Linked DNA regions of Homo sapiens: region 2 is linked to region 1. The links come from fine-mapping of genetic effects on gene expression. A gene starts in region 1. The other region holds a variant in brackets. All regions are shown on one strand. Distances are from middle to middle.

Region 1 (8,000 bases):
ACCAGGAAAGTCAAGAGGGGAAGCCCTACTGCACTTAACAGGAGAGAAGGTCAAGTAACCCCAGAATCTTTTTCTCTGAGGATTTGCTGTTGCAGATCAAAGACACTGCTTTTCACTGCAAACATGTGAACCTCCCCCTTCTCTGATCAAGGATGCTGTGGTTTTGATGATATTCACTTGATAAGGGAGAGCTTGGTAGTTTCACAGAAAATCGGAAGTGTTTGTAGAAACAGGTTCCCATCTATGAAAGAACCACTGGGCTGGGTGTTAAAACTGAGTCCTGAACGTAAAGATCATCACAAACCTATGAAACATCATTCCCAAACAAGATAGCGTAATAGTATCTAGGAGATTACAAACAATATGCAGAAAAGGGAACCAACCAAATAAACCAAAGAAATCTATCTTGATACTGAATAGCCTATAACTCTCCTTATAAGTGAGATGACTTGAGTAAGAACATTGAGGCAATCCAAAGGATCACATTATTTTAGTGTTTCTAAAATCTTCCTAAACATGCCATGTCTTAGATTTGGATTTTTAAAAATTCTTTTCAATTCAAAATTAATTCCCTACCAAAAGAGTTTGTATCTTACCACTTGACCGAATGTTGATGAATGGGTAGTTGGGCATCACCAGCTTGTTGAAGTTAAATTTATAGGTAAATCTTTTCCCTTTTGTTTTATGAAGGATCCTCTTGTTGTAATAGTATCTGTAAAAACAGGAATACATGTCCATTCGTCTTGTAGCTACTGACAGCTTTCAATACACTTAGGTAGCCACTGAGACCAACAATTCTTGCTCTGAGTATTACTTACAAAAATCACTACCAATCTTTCGCAGCCTGGCCCTCCAGGTAGATCTAGGAGACCTAACAGCTTAATTTTCTTACTCAATTTTCAACTCAGCTCGTTTTTGCCTAGAGGTTTACAAAGACAACTTCACTTTAAGATTCTGAACACTTATCCTAGCCCCAAACATTTTCTTCTCCATCTCTCTACAATTTCGATTCTACAGTCCATTTCCGTCCGGTTGCACTGCATGTCACTAACTGCTTAGTTTTTCTTTTTGGTCTTGCCCAGGTGGGGGCAGACAAATCACTAGGGAGACCTGATGTGGTTAGTCTGGAGGCCTAAGCTCAAAAGACAGACAAAGGAATGTACAACTGTTTTATGGTGGCAGGTCAAACAATGGCATGCCCTGATCTGGAAAACAGCAGCTAGTGTGGCCCGCCTCACCTTCAAAGACTCAAAGGGATGTGAAAGAATACAGCAAAGCCACTGTACAGAGTTTACATTTCAGGTCAGGAGAACTTCAATTATCTGGAACCTTTAGTCTTACATCTATGCAGTAGCAGAGGTCATAAACTGCCTTCTAGCCCCTTGAGGGCTAAAGGACTATGAAATGTAAGACCGACAAGGGGAAAAAAGAACCTGAGAAAACTTATAGTGATCAATCTTTAGACATATTGCAGCAGGCTATGGACAACCTGAGCTCACAGACACAGTTCCGGAATAGATAGGTCAGTATCACTGAATCTTCCTCCCGTGACTTGCTTCATCCTTTTCTAAGTTTCTTTCAGGGAAGCCCAAAGAAAGAAATTCTAACAGATTCTAATAGAGAAGTCTAAACTAATCCTTTGGATTATAAATGAACTCCAATCCATGTTTCACCATATACTCTCGCCCACTACAGAGCAGAATCAGCTGTCTGTCAGGATCCAGTGCCAGCCACATTGGAATCCCCTCCTACGTATAACCAAAGATATGCCTTTTCTCCTCCTGTGCCTATGCTACTCACATTCAACAGCTCTTCTACTCCCACTTTAAAGTGACACATTATTCACTAAGATAGTGTAGTCTTTTATTACCTGATACCCTTTTTATCTAGCATTCACCAAACAGCTTAGTCTCCTTCCAATCTGTTAACACAGATTTGGGAATCCTTTTCCTTACCTGAGGGCCCGGCTCAGCTTGTCATAATTCATCTGTGGTTTGCATTTCCTGCGGCCCCAGAGGCGGGCCACCTCATCTGGATCCTTGATGACAAATTCCCCGTACTCTCCCTGCTGCCAGGCGATGACATGGCGGAACTCTTCCTTCTGCAGCAGCTCCAGGATGAAGTGCCACAGCTGGATCTGCCGGGAGCCTGGGGATGACTCTGTTTTGTAGGCCCAGTCAGGAAACTGATACCCTTTCATGTGAGAAGGTCAAGATTAAGCTAGTTAAGAGGTAGGTACATACATACCAGCAACCCCAACTGCACATTCCACTGCTCAGAATCTAGAGTGCTTTGCAAACATGCTGTAAGTACTCTCAGTCAGCTGGGCCTAACCACAATGGGGAGAGGAAAGCACAGAGAAGTCACCTATCCTTGTGGCAATCATTAAATCTGATAAGAGTTGGGCAGCAGCAACCAGATGTCCTAAGCTGACCTTTTCATACATTACTAAATACACCTACTTTCTGTGAGGACATAAAAGTGCTAAAGGGAACAAACAGGAAAGATAAACTAATGTTTCAGGAAAATACAGCTGAAAACTCCTTTTCCCTAAGGTTGGAACTGTGTCTCTGACAGCAAAGAGACTCTAAAGCTTAGGATATGGGTGTGGTGACCAGACATGTTAAATATACATCCATAGGAAACAAGCCTACAACTGTCCTGCCAGTATCCACCTAGCCAAGAGAGTGTCAGTCATGGTCTGACATTTGTGAACAGAGCTCAAGTGGAGAGGACAGGAACCACTGAGGGAAGCTTCCAGGTACATCAGAGATGATTAACTTCTGCTCACCTCCACCTCCTTCTGGCTTTTCCACGATGCTACAGCCGGCTTTCATTTTCACCCGCCTGCTGAGAGACACAAGCCACACAATTACTTTAAGATGCTATTTATTTAGTATCCTCTCAAAAGTTTTCTGGCAGTCTCTCCCCAAACTTCCTTTCCCCTGTTCTTCTTTCCGTATGCAACTCTCTTTCTTTCAAACATGTCACCTCCAAACTGCTACTCCCCAAGTTATCAAATGATGGGCCTCAGGTCATCAGCTTCAAAAGCCATAATTATCTCTCACCTGACTTTAAACCACAAAGTGTAAACACTGTCTTTAATATTTGTTTTCCTCCTCCTGACCAACCCTTCAAATGTAAAAAAATAAAAATAAAAAAGGAAGGTACAGTGAAATGGGTCCAAAAACGCAGCCAAAACAAGTCAAACAGTTTGTCTTCTATTACTAGACAAGCCCACATGCCAAGATACACAAGCCTGAGTTCACCAAGATGTACCAGTTTAAAGGATGAAAAAATCCCAAATCCATCTGATTCCCACTCAAGAATGAACATCTGATTTTGATTTATTTTACTGAATTATGTGAGATAGAAGGAAGATTCTTCCCAGCCACAAACTGCTCCCTCCCCCTTGAAAAATACCCTGGGATACAGGAAGTAAACACACCATATGTACATTTACTCTATTCAAAAAACACACACAAACTCTCAAAAATTTTTTGAGAAAAATTATACATTTTCTCCATTTAACAGGAAGGGGTGAAAAGCAGGCATTTCTGAAGCCCTTCTGGCCAGTGAGTGGAAGGAGTCTTGCTGCGATTTGAATTCATTCCATCCAGATTTACAGTTCCTCAATAAATTTCCTGTTCCTCCCAGCAAGGAGCTTTGTGTTAATCACTTAGCAAAAAGGAGGGAGGGGTGAAACTGCCAGAGGGACATGGAGGGAGGGCAGATCTACCCTCGCTGTTCCCCAGGGTGGATGACAGGCCCTCAGCATCCACATTAGCAGGCATCTGGAGAGAATGCCTAAGTGGCCCCCGCGTAGGGACAAATTCCTTATCTTGGAAATTTCACCTAACCTAGGATTTCTCTAGATCTTTTGAATATTTTTTCTCACCAAACACATTAAGGAGACCAGCAAGTGTCAGTCTACAAAACTACTAGCGGCCGAGGACAAGATAAACACCCCAAAGGAAGGAGCAGACAAGGAAAAACACACACACACACACACACACACACACACACTCTCACACACACACGAGATACATAATAACGAGGCACCGGGGCTGAGGCAGGAGCTTCCTCTTCCACCTTAGTGACAATGAGGGAGGAAAAACACGAATTTCCCCACTGCTCCAGGAAGCTGCCCTGGACTCTTAACTCCTAGGATGCGCTGTCAGATCGCGAGGCCTTTTACCCTGCCACAGAACTCCCTCCAACCATCACGACCCTGGGGTCCAAATCCCGTTGCAACGATAACCTGACAAGGAAACCCTCTCTTGACACTCCAGCTCTCCAATTTTCCCCATAAAAGTCCCTTTCCCAGGAGCCCTGGGGCGCCTCTGCACGCCTTTCGCATATTCACTGCAAGGACACTTCCATCCAAGTAGGGCCACTCGTCTCAACTCTGCAAACCACAGGACCCCTGCCCTTCCTCTGATCGCGACCACTCCCCGAAGAGTGAGGCATGCACAGTCTGGCGCTGCGGGTTTCCCGCAGCAGCTCCGGGTCCTGGCTTCCACAGCCCCCAGAACCTCCTTGCCATTCACCTCCCGGGCCGGGCTTCCCTTAACCGTGGCCTCAGGGCTGCGCGGGGCCACCGCATGAACGCTGCCCTGGGTCCCTGTCGCCCCTCAGACAGACACGGGATCCCACCCTCCCCCGCCCCCCGCACTGGGTGAGGCCCAGCTGGGTGGGTACGCGGCCTGGCGGCCGGCCCCGATTCCAGGGACGCCGTCCCCGCCAGGGTCCCGGATCCAACCCAGACACCCCGGCGGCCGAGGCGAGGCCGGGACTCACCTCTTCCCGGCACGGTCCGTCTTCGGTCCGGTCTCCTCCGCGGCGTCTCCGGCTCCTCCTCATCCACCCCAGCAGGAAGTGACCTCCTCGGCTGCTTTCGTCACTTCCATCCTCAGCAGAGAGGGCGGGGGAGGAGGAGGCGCCCTCCCGCCGGTTCCCAGCCTCACCTCGCCGCACCCAGCAGCGTCTCCCTTTCCTTTCTCCTTTCAGCAGACGCCGACTTCCGCCCGCACTCCTCCCCCTGCGCGCTCCTCCCGGCCCGCATCCCGCGCATCCGCCCCGGCACGGCCCGTGCGTCACGCTGCGGGGGCACGTTACGCACGCTCGTGGCGGGCGGCCGGCCCGGTCCGCTGCTGGGCCAGGGTCCTCCAGACGCCGAGGGGTGACGCGGCGCGAGGGGGTGCTGAGCTGCTATACGCTTCCCCCGCCAGTCCTGCGCCGTGAGGCAGAACGGACTTTGCGGGGCGAGGCGCTGCCCCGGGGTCCCACCTCCCGGGGGAGGGGACCTCGCAGACCCCACAGGAAGGCCCAGGCGCCGGGAAACAGTCTCTCCCACACAACAGAGAGGCGGCCCGTCTTTCTCCAGAAATGGGCCCTGCGACCTCCCAGAGTGGGGATCCCTCACAATGGGAAGACGGGACCCGCAGACTTCAGACGCAATTTCCCTACCCTTTAAGAAAGGGCCCTTTCATATACGTATGAAAGAAACCGCAAAGCTTTCTCTGAAGCACGTCGCTTTGGCATTTCCTCCCTGGGAAGACTGGGGGGCATGACCGCTTCCCCGCTAGTTCCCACCCCACTGCATTTAGTCTTAATTCGTCCCAGTCTAAGCAGCTTGCAAGTCCTCTCCCTAAGTCATTAAAACGCGTGTCCCCTTTTGGTTTTACCTTTTGTTCCTGCTCGGGCAATTTGTCTGTCCAAAGCATGATTTTTTCTTCCTTTAGAGGCTCATTAAGGATAAAGAATCTCAAGCAGTTCAGCTTTATCTGCAGTCCCACCCCTGTAAATCTGAGTGGTGTCCAGGCATAGTTTCACTCCAGAGGCAGAAGAAAGGGAGTAGTGAGGATCAGTAAAGGTTAAAGAATTTAGAATAAATACGAGCGTGGGGGAGGTGAAGAAGAGAGATGGGATTGAAGGAGAATTGAAGATCAATTTTGATCAAATGGATCAAAACTTTGTACCTCTGCTCTAGTAAGACCTTTGCACCGTCTCTGCCACATGGGACTTGGAGATATTAGTTGTTACAAAAATTGCTTCCAGTTTTGAATGTGCTACTAGTCACTGTGTAGCTCTTGATAAATTAATTAGTAAATTGGCTCCCTCTGGCCTAAAATTACCTTACCTGTTTTTTAAAAAAGATAACATTGTTGTGTCTTTTCTAGTTAGAACTTCCTACTCTGTAGGTGAACAAAATAAGGAGCAGAACTTAAACACCATAGAGAGGGTTACCGATACCTGCAACTAGTCCACTAGCTCTTTGTAGGAACTGTCTATATATTCTTTGCATCTTGTGCATGGTACCTAGAACGGCAACTTACATGTAGATATCAGATGTTTGCTAGAACATTCCTTTAAAATATTGGGGTTCGGCTAAACGGAAATTAAGTCCTTGTGCCTTCATCTACTAGCTTTGTGACCTTAGTTAAGTGACTTAACTTCTCTGTGTCAGTTCCTCATCTATGTGAACATAATACCTACAGTATCTACTGATGTGATTGTTATTAGATGTGTTAATACATGTAGAGTGGTTAGAACAGAGAATGGTATATTTTAAATATGGCAGATGAAAAATGTTGGCAAAGATAATAATCATAAGAATCATTCTTATGAGAATCCTCAATTTCTCATACCACCCATGCAAATCTTAGTAATTGTTACAACTCAGAAACCAGGGTGATCGGGAATGAGTAGTTTCTTCTGAAAGTCTGAAATTGCTCATCTTTGGCTCATAGCTCAAATGGTCATGGTTAGAGCCAGCATGGTTGACTCCAAGGAGCCTGTGCTCTACAAAGGGCCAGGAGTCAGAGTATAGGGACTCTTTCTGCATATTTTTACTCAAGCCAGACTCCTAGGGTTCTCTGCTGCTGCTTCTCTAATTAACGTCACAAAGGATGTCTTGAGTAAACACAATCAACAGAGATAAACAAGTCTCTCTACCTGGCTGGAGTCTAAATTGATATATTGAGAAATGTTTATATTCCAGCAGAACTCAACATTAAGTTTTTACATTAAGAGTCTAATCACTGGCCTGAAACTCTAGAGGTGAATTTGGGTTTGATGAAGGCAACTGGAGATTACCTAATAATTAGTGGGTCTGAATAAATGAGTTGTGGCTGGGATCCTCTCTTGTGGTGGTAGGATCTGGGGACATTAGGATGGCCAGGGACTAATGGCGCAGCATACCCAATGCCCCTATCCACCATTTCCTTCACCATGGCACTGCTGCCTTCTCCATCTGCTGCAAACAGGTTTTCAAAACGTGGAGATTTTTCATGTTCCTGAAATAGGGAGAGCATGAGCTTTCTGAAAAGCGTGGGGGTGGAAACACTTAAGACACTTAGCATAAAAGTCAAGACAGGTTGTAATCTCTCTTGAATTTCCACTTGCTCAAAGCTGTCTTTGTCCACTGACATTACCTTCCTACCCCCTTCCCGCCCATCTTTACAATTGTTCCATATGTCTAGAATAAGTTTCTGTTCTAAATCTAATGCTCTCAATTCCACTGTCACCACAGCACAGCCATTTCACTGCTTCTTAAATTAAAAAAAGAGAAAGGAAATAATTTCTAAAAGTATTTTTCTTCGGAAAAACCCTTTCTGGATTGTTGTGTGTGAGCGTGTGCATTTCTTCCCTGGCTTGTGCTTCTTTATTGACCCCATTTTCATTTATATGCTCCACACCCTAAACTAACCTGGACATGTATATGATGTGAATGCTTTCCTCTCTACTCTTGTAGTAGATGACTGTCTTATTCTACCATCTGTATGTCACAGAAGTATTTGTTCTTCCTAGTGGGTTTGTCTTAGATTGCAGGCCCTCAGGGGTTACAGCCACAGTCAGTAGGTCCTCACACTGCCCAGAGCAGTTCCCTGTCATCATTTGAGATGTCTCATGATGATAATTTCCTTCTCTGCTATCATGTATGCTGATGGGCTGATGCTGATGAGCTTCTGTCTCCTCCCTCAGTCTCCACTAAGTCT
Region 2 (8,426 bases), 42 kb after region 1:
ACAAAAATTAGCTGGGCCTGCTGGTGGGCACCTGTAATCCCAGCTACTTGGGAGACTGAGGCAGGAGAATTGCTTGAACCCGGGTGGCAGAGGTTACAGTGAGCTGAGATTGCATCATTGCACTCCAGCCTGGGCAACAGAGTGAGGTCAGGAGCTGCTGGTTGTGACCATGCCATTGCTGCCAGCCTTCCTTGCCCAAAACATGGCCTGCACCTTGCCTCCACCCCCATGTAACTCAGTCTCAGTAAAAGTTCTGTGTATGTGAAATGACCTGTGGGACCTCAGCTGAAATGTGTCTGAAAAATGTAGTTTTGAGCTTTTCATCTCCTGCAGTACAGGAAGGCATCCTAGGTCAGGGGCATAATGGGTGTTGGATGAGCCTGTTTATAAAGGGAATGTGCCAGCTTGCCCTCAGAGATCTGCCTGAGCTTGGTTTGATCCCTGGCCAGGGCTTGACACAATGAAGCCTCCCTATGCTTCTGAAAATGTCCAACTTTACTGTCTCATAGTCCCCCACTTTCTTTCCGTCCCAGTCTAACCCTTCACACCTGCACCCACACCTGCTGTCTTGGCTCTGTTCTGCCCTGGTTTCCAAGAAAAAACCCAGTGGATCCAAGAAGGTGCTTGGTCATTGACTTCACTGCAGCTCTGGGTCTATCTCAGGGAGGCATCAGATCTCATTGGCCATAGACAGGCTTCCCCTCTTTGCTGTCACTTTCATGTCTGCCTCCTTCCACAGCCTGAGTCCTGACACAGGACCACCCTCCTGCCTGTGATGCCCTCTGGGCTGGGTGACTCAGTGACCCTTCCTCTAATTAGTTCTCTGAGGGAGCAGCCCGGCCAGGCTTGGTTCCCGTCACGCTGAGATCCTGAGGGTGAGCGCAGATGAGCTGCCCAGATTTTGATTCCACATAGGAAGGATATTCTAACTCTAGAACTTGTGGACTGCCTTTTGCAGTAACTTCCCCATTACCAGGTAGGGGAGTGAGAATCAAACCAGTCTTGAATATCTTCTCTCCTGGGAATCTGTGGAGCAGTTCTGGGTGAGAGCACAGAGTGCACTCAAGGTGACGTGCTTGGGGACACACAGTGGGATGGGAGAGTGGCTGTGATGTCAGCGATGAGTCCTGAGCTTGTGGTCAGGAGTCCAGACCCTGTGCCTTGATTAGCTGTGTGACCTTTCACAGGTTCATAAGCCCTCTGAGGTTTGGGTTTCACATCCATTAAATGGATTTAATACCCAGAAACCTACCTTGAGGTGGTCATGGGGTCAGGCCTGCAGCTCCAGCCTTCGGGGTGTTCTGCCTGTGCAGCCATCGGGGAAGACCAGGTGGGGAAAAGGAGGCGGTGCCTTGGGGTTAGGAAAATGATACTGCTCCCCCAGGGTAACGGAAGGGGGAACTCACAGATGTTGTGGTGTATCTAGGTCTGGAGAGAAGAGGCTCAGCAGGAGGTGGAGAGTTTAAGGCAGCTGAGGCTGTGGCAGAGGGAGTATGCAGCTCTCTGTCCTGCAGGAGCAGGGCTGGGAGGAACTTACAGGGGAAGTCATGGTTCAATCCAGCCATGGCTGAATGGCTTTCTGTAGACTGTCAGCTTCTGTGGGGGTCTGTCCTTACCCTGAGTGTATAGAAAGGTGACTAGCACTAGTGGGAACTGAGAAACCATATGGCCACCAGCAAAAGGTAAATGCCAGGATTTGCAATGGGGATGTGGGGAGTTTACACTATCCACGAGAACTTTGTTCTTTTGCCCATAGCTTCTTACTTAGGCAACTGACAGTTGAAGTTTTTGGAAAATCTAAACAGAAATCTGGCTGGGCACGGTGGCTCATGCCTGTGATTCCAGCACTTTGGAAGGCCAAGAAAGGTGGATTGCTTGAGCTCAGGAGTTCAAGACCAGCCTGGGCCACATGGCAAAACCCCATCTCTACAGAAATTAGCTGGGAGTGGTGGTGCCTCAGTTACTTGGCGGGGCTGAGGCGGGAGGATCGATGGGCCCAGGAGGTTGAGGCTGCAGTGAGACAAGGTTGCACCGCTGCACTCCAGTCTGGGTGACAAAGTGAGACCCTGTCTCAAAAAAATAAAAAAGAAGAAATTTAATTTACTAAATAAGGCAGTGACAAAGGAAAGCCACTGAACTCAGGAGTGGCATAGCCCAGCCTTGCTGTAAGAGGGTGACTTCTGTGCCTGACCATAGGCTGACACTGGTCACCAGGGCCACCTGGGGCAGAGCTGTGAACCCAGGGAAGCATCAGGGGAGGGTGTGGGAGGGAACACCAAGCTGGCTGTGCCCGCAGGGACGGGACAGTCTAACAAACTGCCAGGAACATCACAGAGTGAGGTTGTACTTTCATTTCTTCTGCAATTACTTATTGAGTGTGTGTGGTACTGTAGGGACTGGGAGGGGATGAAAGAGCTGAATGGCTTTCTCTAGACTGGTGGCTGTCTCCCCAGTAGTAACTTGCTAGCCCCACCCTTAAAGTGGGGAAGGGCTCCTGTGCTCAAACTTGTCCTTCCCTCTTGCCTTCGTTTCTTCCTATGTTTCTTCTGCAGCTGAACAAGCAGCAGGCAGCCTGCCATGGGGCCCTGCTCTGGGGCCAGTCCCTCTGCTGGGACTCAGGGCTCCTGGGATTCATCAATCTCCTCCTCAGTGAGTGCAGGGTTCCTGGGAAGGGAGGGCAGTTGGGTGGGGCTGGGCTAGCTGGGTCTGACCACTGGGTGGGCTGTTCAGGTTCCGCTGTCTTTGGGCCACAAAAAGAGAAAACCACTCTGTTATGATTTACAAATGCAGCATATTTGGTTGGAGCCCCAGGATAGAAATAACAAAAAGTCCTTTTGGTGGTGAGGAGGCTGGGAACCCTGAACTAGGGCAGTCTTGGTGGTATTGAGGGAACCTTTACCAGGGAGGTGGGGCCGCTTCTGCTGCAGTAGGAGGGTGGCCTGATACTGCCTGGAAAGAGGGATGGAGACAGACAAACTACCTGCCTGGAAAGAGGGATGAAGACAGACAAACTACCTGTCTCCTGGGGAAGAGAGGGTGGGAACAATACATTCCCAGCCAGGAACTCAGAGGTGCTCTGACGGTCTTTGCAGCTGTCCTGTGGAGGAGGGGCAGAACTAGAACCCTGCTGTCTGAACTGGAAGAAGCTCCTCTGTCCTGGGCTTCTCCGTTGAAAAAGGAGAGTGAATATGAACTCCCCTGCCTGGGCTTGGGGCTCACAGGTCATCACAAAGGAGAGGACACTTGGAGGTCTCAGGTTTATCTTAAAATTGTTTGTGTAATTTGCAATAGTTTTCTTTTCTTTTTTTTTTTTTTTTTTTTTTTTTTTTTGAGATGGAGTCTCGCTCTCTCACCAGGCTAGAGTGCAGTGGTGTGATCTTGGCTCACTGTAACCTCTGCCTCCTGGGTTCAAGAGATTCTCCTGCCTTAGCCTCCTGAGTAACTGGGACTACAGGTGCCCGCCACCACACCCAGCTACAGTAGAGACGGGGTTTCACCATGTTGGCCAGGATGGTCTCGATCTCCTGACCTCGTGATCCGCCTGCCTCAGCCTCCCAAAGTACTGAGATTACAGATGTGAGCCACTGCGCCTGGCCAAATAGTTTTCATTTAAAATATTAACCAGCATTTATCTTTGCCTAAAATGAATACCACAGGAGGATCCCTTTATTGTCCCTGAGAGTTGCCTTTCCCTCCACCCTGAAATGCTGCTCAGGTCCTGGAGGCCGCAGGTGAAACCATGTTTATCACAGCACTGTTGTAGGGAAAAACCCTGGAAAAAAGAGGAGGTGCCCATCAATTCATGAATGATTGACCAAACTGAGGAGTATCTGTACCATGGAATATTATGGAGGCTTACAAAAAGAAATAGTTCAGTTTCCTGGAAGGAGTTTTAAATTTTTTTGAAGTATGAGGTATGGAATCCTAGCAGCAAGTTCAGGAAATGAAACACAATGAAATCCTTACTTTATAAAAGGAAAAGCAGCTTCCAAAATTTAAGGGTTTACATCTTTACAGTCACATGTTTTTAAGACTATATTGGCAATGTGGAAGGAATCAGTAGATTGCTAACATGGGCTACAACAGAGCATGAATTTGGGCAGGAAAAATGGAGGGAGAAAAAGCAGAGAACACAGGGAATTAAGCAAAAAAGGAAACTGAAAGAAAGACTGTCCTAGTCTAGGCTGTATATCACATTCATGACTCTATTTAAGATTATATGTTTGTATATACAATGAAATTAGGTCAAAATTAATGACAAAATAAGACATAGTAAAGATGAATTTTTGTGGAAGTTTTATGGTTATAATTTTTTTTGTTTTAATATTCCAGCCAATACTTGAACTTGCAGGGAATTATATGAAATTGAGCAGATTAGAGAGCATTTGTAAAACAGGATGTCTTGAAAAAACAATGGGCTTAGAAATAGGGCTACGTCCTCTTTACATAGGTAACCTTCTGTAGTCAGCAAAATGTAGGCGTTCTCCACTTCTACAATGTTATTTACCTGGAAATATGTTCAGTTGTATAGAGTTTTCCTTGTAGGCATGGGGGTTGGAAGATTTCTGAAGATACAAAGAAAAATAAAGAAAGAATGGAAGGAAGGAAGGGAGGGAGAGAAAGAAGGAAAGGACTTAGAATTTCTCATTTTAGGGGTAGGAGATCCGTGTCCAGACAAAGAAAGTGATTCTCTCAGGAAATTACTGGGAAAGAATGAAATTGGTTGTCCCAGTGGTGTGGTACTGAATGAGACAAGACCTCTTGCTGTGGAATTTGGTCAGAGGCTGTCCGCAGAAGGAACATCATTGTGAAATTGCTCTGCGTCCTTGCAAGAATCCCGAAGCTCCATAATTGGATGCATTTTTCCTTTGGTTTCTGGATAGTCCTTGTTCCAGTTCACCCTTGACCCAGGGAGGAAGATGGGGATGAAGCAGTGATGATGTAGTGGAAATGAGGAATTTGTCCTCATCATTCTTAAACTCTAACACCCTTCCTGAACATGTGTTTGGATGGGGAAGTGTGGAAGGGAAGGAGGGAGCCTGAGGGTGGCTCAGCTCACATATAATTTCCCAGAGACAGAGGCAGTTGCAGGTGAGGGTGGTCCTTGACTTCTGGGGAGCCCCTGACCATAACAATAACAAGATTTACTGAATGCCCACCCAGTGTCTGCCAGCAGGGAGTTGGAGGAGAAAGGGTCTTTGCATTAGGGGCTCCAGACAGAGACATGAGACAATGGAGATGGTACCAAGAAGCGCAGTTTGGGCATCAAACATGAATTGTTGGTTTGTGAGTGTGGTGATGGGAGCTATGTCAGACAAATGGACTATAT[A/C]TATATATATATATATTTTTTTTTTTTTCTTTTTTGAGACAGGGTCTTACTTTGTCTCCCAGGCTGGAGTGCAATGGTGTGATCTTGGCTCACTGCAGCCTCGACCTCCTGGGCTCAAGTGATCCTCCAGCCTCAGCCCCCCAAGTAGCTAGGACTACAGGTGTGCACTACCATGCCTGGATAAAAATGAACAATCTTTTATGCTGATGACAGGATTTAAAATTTTATACAGTTTAAATGAATGTTTAACTCCACCTTGTAAATGACCACCTGCTCCCTGGCTTGTTTTTTCTTCTTCAGGATTAGCATCTCTGTAGATCAGAGAGCTCCTGCTGCCTTCCTTCCCTCTCTGAATCTTCATCTTCCTCCCTGCTATGCTCATCATCCACCTTCTGGGGCAGATCCTCCCTGGCAGCCTGAGGGCTGAGCCTCCTCTCTTTCTGGTTCCCAGTTCCCTCGTCCAGGAAGTGGGGTCTGTCCAGGCTGCCTGTTTAACCCTCTGCTAGCCAGAAGTCCCTGCTCTGCTCAGCCACTGAAAGTAGCTGCTTCCCCTTTTCAGGAGAGGGCAGTTGGGGTGGAGACCCCGGCAGCTGCTCAGGGCCTGGTGGGCTCAGACGACAGTGCAGCTGAGCTCCGGGGAGGGCAGGTGAGGATGGAAGAGCTCATGGGCAGCGTCCTGCAGGGGAGGCCCTGGGCTGGGGGAGGAAATTGGGCTCCAGGTGTGGCTCTGCCCTGTGTGACTCAGGACAGGTCTACCCCATAGAGAGTGCCTACTCTGTAATAAAAGCAGGAGCTTGGACAGATCATCCTTGAGTCCCCTCTCAGCAGTGAGGTTCTGGGATTTGGTGACTCCTGTGGCTCTATCAAGGTCTCTGCTCTGTCTCCCCATCCTGTCCTGTCCTATCCTGTGGCCTGACGGGCACTGACAGCCAGTGAGCCTATTTCAGGCTTCTTCAGAGAGAAGGCCCTGGGTGTCCCTGTGGCCACTTCCTCAGCCCTCAAGGGAGGAAGGGACTCCTCCTCTCTCAGTCCCCTCCACGTGACCCTCTGCTTTCTCTGCCTCTGCTCCTGAGAGGGGTCTTCGGGGTCAGCCCTCACTCAGGAAGGCCTGCTGCAGCTGTGGCATTTAGAAGCCACTAATACAATCCTCAGCCAGACCTTTTCAGTTTCTGTCTGCTCAGCAGAAAACACTAATTTCTATTTCACTGGTTCCAGGCAATGCTGCAAGAAGTAAGACAAACACTGTTTTGGCCAGAATTATTCCTGAAAATCTGTTAGGAAAGTGCCATACAGGAGACTGGAGTGTTATCTCCCAGCAAGTCTAATGAATGCCCACATTTATCCAGGTGGAAAAAATGGCTGTTTCTTTGAGCTTCAGATTAAATAGAACACTTTATTATTATTATTATTATTTTTGAGATGGAGTCTTGCTTGTTGCCCATGCTGGAGTACAGTGGCATGATCTTGGCTCACTGCAACCTCTGCCTCCTGGGTTCAAGCGATTCTCCTGCCTCAGCCTGCTGAGTAGCTGGGATCACAGGCGCACACCACCATGCCTGGCTAATTTTTGTATTTTTAGTAAAGACAGGGTTTCGGTTTTACCATGTTGGCCAGCCTGGTCTTGAACTCCTGACCTCAGGCGATCCACCTGCCTCAGCCTCTTAAAGTGCGGGGATTACAGGCCTGAGCCACCACATCTGGCCAGAACACTGATGTTTAGTGTCCATTTTTATACCAAAATTGTACAAAATACTTAGACATTACACTCCACAAGAACCAGGACTTGCTCTCAGAATTGCTTCAGACTTGTTGTACTAGCTTTATTCCTAAAATCAAGGGAGTATATTGGATAAATTTTACTAAAATAGAAAGTTCTGTGGTTCTCTCATTTGTTCTTGCTGAGGAAATACTCATGTTTCCTGTTTCCATGCCCTAGGTGTCTGCAGCACAACAGCCAACACTTCTGGAGCACATGGCCCTGCAGTGAAGGATTCTGGAGCTCACATTTGTCTGAAGGGGATCCGAGGAGGTTCTGTGTTGTTGAATGTGATTGAGAAGCTCAGAGTAGATGTAGACGCCGAGCTGGAGGAGGTTGTATGGACTTTGGGTACTCTGTCAAATCATACACAGGTGCTGTGAGTCCACAGGGGGGCCGACTCTCCAACCTGGGTCGGCCTTGAGGAAAAGTTCAAGCAGAGGGTCCATGTGCCTAGCGTGTTGTCTCTGAGGATTGAGAACCTGGCCCCTGAAGACAGTGGGCAGTACATGGCCATGATCCATTTAACTGGGGGACAATTATCTGGCCAGGTTTTCTACCTCACTGTCTATGGTGAGTGACACCCCTCCCTCCCCCATCCTCTGGCTTACCTGCTTTTTTTGTCCCTAGAGTGTCACATAGGCCCCATGCAGGGTTCCATTCAGACACCAGTCTTCAGACTCCATTTTCTCCACTAAAATAAGGCACATGAGGTCCCCAGAGATACAGAGCAGAGCTGAGATTCACAGCAGGAAGAAAATCTCTTCAGTGTTTTGGGACAGGAAATGGAAATTCAGGAAAATAGCAATTTTTCCAATAACATTAATCATCCTATATACGATTAACATTAATTTGTATAGTAGTTTTTTATCGCTAATGTAACAAACTACCAAAAATTATTGGCTGAAGGCAACACAAACTTATTATCTCACTGTGCTGTAGGCTAGAGATGTGACACAAGTATCCATGAGCTAAAATGAAGGTGGTGGCAGGGCTGTGTTCTTTCTCAGGGCTCCGGGGAGAAGCCATTTTCTTGCGTTTTTCACCTGCTAGTGGCTGCTGGCGTCCCATGGCTCATGGCCATCTTCCTGTATTTCCTAATAGAACACTGATGTTAGTGTTTGGGAATTCAGAATCATCTCCCTATTTTAAGGTCAGCTGATTAGCAACCTTAATTCCATCTGGGAACTTAATTCCCCTTGCCTTGCAGCTAACTTATTCCCAGGTTACCAGGATTGGTCCTAAACATTTTGGAGGCCACTGTTCTGCCTACCACAGTTGGGAATCCCTGTGAATGAAGTCCTCCCCTCTCACTCAGCCCCAGCCCAGGGCCAGCCTCAG

What was found.
Region 2: its variant is fine-mapped to the expression of ETV3 in whole blood (INTERVAL, PIP 0.97).

Annotation. Positions count from the first base shown.
Region 1 is chr1:157,133,516-157,141,515 of GRCh38, forward strand. ETV3 (ETS variant transcription factor 3) reads right to left here and starts at 4,880. Exons shown (of 5, transcript NM_001145312.3): 1 at 4,801-4,880; 2 at 2,792-2,850; 3 at 1,956-2,193; 4 at 597-712. The coding sequence starts at 2,837. RefSeq lists silencers at 4,618-4,807, 4,652-4,987, 5,038-5,407 and an enhancer at 5,339-5,944.
Region 2 is chr1:157,175,595-157,184,020 of GRCh38, forward strand. LOC107985211 (a long non-coding RNA gene) reads left to right here. Exons shown (of 4, transcript XR_007066653.1): 2 at 7,266-7,658. Among named protein-coding and RNA genes, the nearest start is that of ETV3, 41 kb to the left of the region's middle. RefSeq lists an enhancer at 6,239-6,398. The variant A/C (reference allele first, on the strand shown) is at 5,330.